Regions from separate parts of the Homo sapiens genome. Here region 1 is linked to region 2. The links come from fine-mapping of genetic effects on gene expression. A gene starts in region 2. The other region holds a variant in brackets. All regions are shown on one strand. Distances are between the middles of the regions.

Evidence for each region. PIP is the estimated chance that this variant, and not a neighbour inherited with it, causes the effect. A credible set is the group of variants that fine-mapping cannot tell apart.
Region 1: its variant is the best candidate, but not a certain one, in a credible set for the expression of SFRP1 in prefrontal cortex (BrainSeq, PIP 0.75).

The regions. Positions count from the first base shown.
Region 1 is chr8:41,466,122-41,469,024 of GRCh38, forward strand. No RefSeq gene overlaps it. Among named protein-coding and RNA genes, the nearest start is that of GOLGA7, 23 kb to the right of the region's middle. The variant AT/A (reference allele first, on the strand shown) is at 1,349.
Region 2 is chr8:41,307,662-41,310,564 of GRCh38, forward strand. SFRP1 (secreted frizzled related protein 1) reads right to left here and starts at 1,812. Exons shown (of 3, transcript NM_003012.5): 1 at 955-1,812. The coding sequence starts at 1,498. RefSeq lists enhancers at 1-761, 762-1,532.

The DNA of each region.
Region 1 (2,903 bases), 160 kb after region 2:
GACCACAGAGAGATCCCTCACCTCTCCAAGTGAGGACACAGGGAAAAGATGCCATCTGGGAACCAGAGCCCTTGCCAGACACTGATCTGCCAACAGCTTGATCTGGGACTTCCCAGCCCCAGAACTGTGAGAAATAACTTTCTGTTTACAAGTCACCAGTTTATAGTATTTTGTTACAGCAGCCCAAATTGACACTTTCATAGTAAGGACTCATAGTAAACATGTGCCGAACAAATTATACAGTCTACTACAAGCTGGATAGCCACAGAACCTGCGAAGTGTCCTTGGTATACACTGGAATTACCTGAAGAAATTGAAAACATACCCTTGCCCAAGCCCCACCCCAAGAAAAATTATTTTTAATTGATCTGGTGAAAGCCTAGACACAGGTACCATCTGAACCTCCCCAGATGATTCTAACAGGCAGCTATAGGTGAGAATCGCCACTGAGCATCCAAGCCCAGTCTCTGAGCAAGTACGCATCCCAGGGTGGTCAAGTGGACTCAGCACAGAAAGCCTTGGTCTTTGTACACACTTCTCCTTCCTGCCCCACCCACCCTGTGTGGAGTGCAAATGCTCAGTGACAAAGTTGACACAGCCCAGACCTCAGGGCCAGGCTGAGGAGGGGTTTGTTTTTCTAGTACCAGCACTTGACAGATTAAAATCTGAAGTTGAACACTGTTTACATCCTTCTCACTGTTTTCCTGGCGTTTTGGTTTGCTGAAAGGGCGCTGTCCCTTTTCAGAGGTCTTGGGAGGCCGTATTAACACTTGTTATACTAAACAGAAGCATTCCAGGGTGCAGGAGAAAGCTCACAGGTCTGGCTGCTGCCTTTCATTTAGTGAAACTGTTTCTAAATAATGTCATTAGATTCATTAGATCCCATTTATGTGCAGCATATGGACTTTCCCAATATATAAACCACCTCCAAACTGAACTGTCTCTCAGCAAAAGCCATTTCCTGTTAAGATGTTGTTTCTACCTCACTCCATCACAGCCTGCAGCCTGGCCACTGCAGGAGAGTGAATAGGATGATGTAAGAGCTCAGGAGGCTGTGCAAGGTCATCCAGGCCCTAAGACTTGGTGTGGGCCTCAGACCAGCTGCCTCAGCATCACCCCGGAGATAGACGGTTAGAAATGCAGAGTCTCAGGTCCCGTCCCGGACCAAATCGGAATCTGCATTTTCACACTGATCCACCTGTACATTTAAAGTTGAGCACTAGTCTCAAACTCAGTGTGCGCTGGAATCACCTGGATAGTTTTTCAAACACTATTAATTCCTAAATCCCACCCCTGAGAGATTCTGGTTTAACTGATATGAGGCATGGCCTGAACAATAAGAATTTCA[AT/A]TTTTTTTTTTTTTTCTGAGAAAGGGTCTCACTTTCTTGCCCAGGCTGGAGTGCAGTGGTGCAATCTCAGCTCACTGCAACCTCTGCCTCCCAGGTTCAAGTGATTCTCCTGCCTCAGCCTCCCAAGCAGCTGGGATTACAGGCACCTGCCACCACACCTGGCTAATTTTTGTATTTTTAGTAGAAACGGGGTTTCACCATGTTGACCAGGCTGGTCTCAAATTCCTGACCTCAAATGACCCACCCGTCTCAGCCTCCCAAAGTGCTGGGATTACAGGCATGAGCCACCGCACCTGGCCAGATTTTCGAATTTTTATGTAAAGCAAAATGTAAGAACCACCTCTTTTTTATTGAACAAACTGAGGCGCAGGGAGGTCAGTGACCCCTCCAAGGTCTCACAGTCAAGATCCGAATTAGATATAAGGGCACAGCAACAAGAGATCGCAGGTCCACAGTATAGACATAAATGCCACACTGTGCGATATTTTGTTTAGACCCTGTAGGGGGTTGAATAGTGTCTCCAAAAAAGGTATGTCTAAGTCCTAACCTGCTGGTACCTGTTACTATCACCTTATTTGGGAATAGGATTATTGCCAATGTAATTAAAGATATCAGGAAGAAATCATCCTGGGTTTAAGGTGAGCCCCACATCTAATGACTGGTATCCTTATGGGAAGAGGAGAGAACACAGAGAAGAAGGCAATGTGAAGATGGAAGCCAAAATTGGAGTGATGTGTCTCTAAGCCACGAATGCCATGGACTCCTGCAACCACCAGAACCCAGGAGAAAAGCAGAGCCCAGTTTCTCCCTCACATCCTCCAGGAGGAACCAAATCTTTGACACCTCGATTTCAGACTTCTAAACTGGAAGGGAAGACGTTTCTATTGTCTTAAGCCACCCAGCTTGTGGTAATCGTTAAACCAGCCCAAGGAAACCAACATAGTCCTCATTAAGCTTGCAAACTCATCTGGTACCACCCTGAACACTCCAAAACATCTGCATTCATCCCGGAACCAAACAGTTCTTTCCAACATGGCAGCCCAGAGAATCCCCCCTGCTTAAGAACATGCAAGGCTAACGAAGCTTGAGCTTCATGGCCCATCATTTGCATATGCTGGGAGCCCTGGCAACTTTGTTTTCATAATTTCACATTCTTTTTCTTAGAGTGCCTACCGCCTCCCCTCAAATTCTTTTATTTTTATTTTTTATTTTATTTTATTTTCAGAGGGGGGTCTCACTCTGTGGCCCAGGCTATAGTACAGTGGAGTGATCATAGCTCATTGCACCCCCAACCTAAATTTTATTTATAAGCTTCAAAAAACATGAAACATGAATCCACCCCTGCCTTTACGGTAAAATGTAAGTTGTTAGCTGGATAGCCAGAGGACTTTGCCCCCAGCCTCACCCTGTCTCTCCAGACCCCACTCCCACACGCTGCCTGCCCAAGCCCTCCCTTCTGCTCAGATGACCCCTTGGGGCTCCCTGCCCATGCTGCCCACGTTCCCCCCTCCACACTGCAGCTCAGGGCAGTCCTGTGCTTCTCTACTTATAGAT
Region 2 (2,903 bases):
GAAGTCAGGTCTGTGATGTGTATATTTTATCTTTATATCTATTTCATTTTATTTGACTTCCCAGGATTTTTTTTTCTTCCCCCTCAAGAATTGCTCTTTAAACATAAGGGGGTTTTGAGAGGAACCTCGGGCCGGTCCCTCAGGCTGTTAGGAAAGTCTGCATTTTGCAGAGCTGCTCTCCCCGGGAGGAGATGAACAATGAGCTAATTACATTTTTATCTTTCTAATGAGCTGAGGATTTGTGTAAATGAGAAAAGCAGGGGGTACGCTAGAGGGAGGGAGAAAAGACTTTCCACCCCCAGCCCTCCGAGGGCAGAGCTGGTACCTGGAAGGGGTGGAGAAACAGAAGTCCCCACGGTTCCTAAACTTTCTCAGCCAGTTTTGCAGCAATCCCAAGGCTACTTGACTGAATGACCAGTGAAGGAAAGGGCTTGGTTTTATTTTTTAAATCTTTGTCGAACCTATGAAAATAAACAAAAGCTGCTCCAAGCATTCTCTCGGCCTTTCTGAACTTTCTACGCTTTGGGTTTTTGTTTTTTCCTCCCGTCTCAGAGGTTAAAAACTTCGATAGGGACTCGGAGTCCTCCTAGAGGAGAGGGAAGCTCCCCTGTTATTTAAAGCGCAAGGCTTTGTTTCAGGTATGGGAAAGGCGAAGTTGGATCCCAGGAAGAGCGGCTCCGGGGACCACAGCGAGTCCCTGCGAGGCCAAGGCGCAGAGCTGCCGCTCCCGGGCCAGCCCCGCCGTGCACCTGGGTCGCGAGGGGCGCTGAGCGATACCTGGGACAGACCAGACGCGCTTAGGAATCACGTGCACAGCATGCGAGCAACCTCGGGCCCTCAGTCCCCAGCACCGGGACCCAGCGGCGGGCGGGCGTAGGGTGGCGCGGGTTCTCCTGCAGCTCCGGCCGGGGGATGGAGGGGGCGGCTCGCGCACGTGGGAGGAGGCAGCCTTACCTTGGGGCTTGGAGGCTTCGGTGGCATTGGGCGGCGTCATGGCGATGCAGACGTCCCCCTCGGGGAACTTGTCACACTTAAGCATCTCGGGCCAGTAGAAGCCGAAGAACTGCATGACCGGCTCGCACGAGTCGCGCACGGCCTCGCAGAGCCAGCGACACGGGTAGATGGGCCGGTCCAGGCAGACGGGCGCGAAGAGCGAGCAGAGGAAGACCTGGGTGCCGGCGTGGCAGTTCTTGTTGAGCAGGGGCACCCAGCTGCTGGCCTGCTGCTTCACCTCCGCCATGGTCTCGTGCTCCAGCAGGTTGGGCAGCACCATCTTCTTGTAGCCCACGTTGTGGCACAGCCGCAGGTCCGCGGGGATGTCCACGCACTGAGGTGGCTTGGTGTAGAAGCGCCCGCTCTGGTACGGGCCGATGTCCGACTGGAAGCTCACGTAGTCGTACTCGCTGGCCGAGCCCACGGCCAGAAGCGCCGCGCCCAGCGCCAGCAGCACGCCCAGGGCTGCCCCGCGGCGGCCCCCCTCGCTGCGCCCGATGCCCATGCCGGCTCTGCGCCCTGTTCTCCGCGACGTCGGGGCTGCCTCCGCCGCCTCCCCGCGCGCGTCCTGCCGCAAACTTCCAGGGACCTCCGGGGACAAAAGGCGCAGTCCCCAGCGTTGCCCGGCTCCGCGGCCGCAAGCTGCTGCCCGGTCCCCCCGGCCAGTGGCGGCCCTCGGCCTGCGGTCGGAGGCGGCGCGGGCGGGGAGGCGGCGCTGCGGGCTGGGTGCGCCCCGGCTCCCGGAGGTGCGGCGAGCAGGAAGGCGCGGGGCGGCGGGCGCGCGGCACTGACTCCGGAGGCTGCAGGGCTGGAGTGCGCGGGGCTCCTACGGCCGAGCCCTCGGAGCCGCCCCGCGCAGCCAATCAGCTCCCGGCGGGGCGAGCCGCACTCGTTACCACGTCCGTCACCGGCGCGGGAGCCAATCGCCTCCCTCGCGAGCGGGTTCGGTTTACTAGAACCAGACGCGGCTCAACACCCCTTAAAAAACAAAACCAAAAATACATAAATAAAAGGGGGAGGAGGAAAGAGACAAGGGGAGAAAAAGAAGGGGAATGGATCACGGCGTGGGGTGGAGAGAGACCAGGGCGGACGCTGTAATTAACTCGCATTGGCTTGCAGAGAAGCGGGGAGCCTGGATCATACTTGCAAACCCATGAAATTATGAAGACTTTTTTTTTTTGAGACAGTTTCGCTCTTGTTGCCTAAGCTGGAGTGCAATGGCGCTATCTCCGCTGACTGCAACCTCCGCCTCCCGGGTTCAAGCGATTCTCCTGCCTCAGCCTCCCGAGTAGCTGGGATTACAGCCGCGTGCCACCATGCCCCCGCTAATTTTTTGTATTTTTAGTAGAGACGGGGTTTCACCATGTTAGCCAGGCTGGTCTCGAACTCCTGACCTCAGGTGATGCTCCTGCCTTGGCCTCCCAAACTTTTTTTTTCTTTTTCTTTACACTGCTTCCTAATTTCAACCAACAGCCCTTTAGACTAGCGGCTCCTCTCCTCGGTTCTCTAGCTGCGGTGCAGACAGGTGGTTTCCCAACTAACAGGGGTTCAGGAAGGCTGAAGCGAGGGAGGTCTGCTTGTAAATACCCAGTGGGCCTGGCTGGGCTCCCTGGAAGGCGAGGCGAAGGCGCAGTTGGAGCTGTTTGCTGTGAGCAGCACCTCTCCAGGTGGGGCCGCCCATGGTGGCCCTCAACACTGGGGCAGTGGGTGGACTTTGCCCGGTGTGGCGGCAGGAAGAGCTGCTAGCAACGGTATTAGCTCTGGGAGGACACTTTTTTAAATATATAATATATATTTAAATAGAAAAACCCTACTCAAGTCCTAGCCCGGGCGACAGCACATCTGTGTGTTTGTGGTGTGGAAAGCCAAAACATTAAAAACACATGTGCACTTATCAGCGTGGCTGGTGT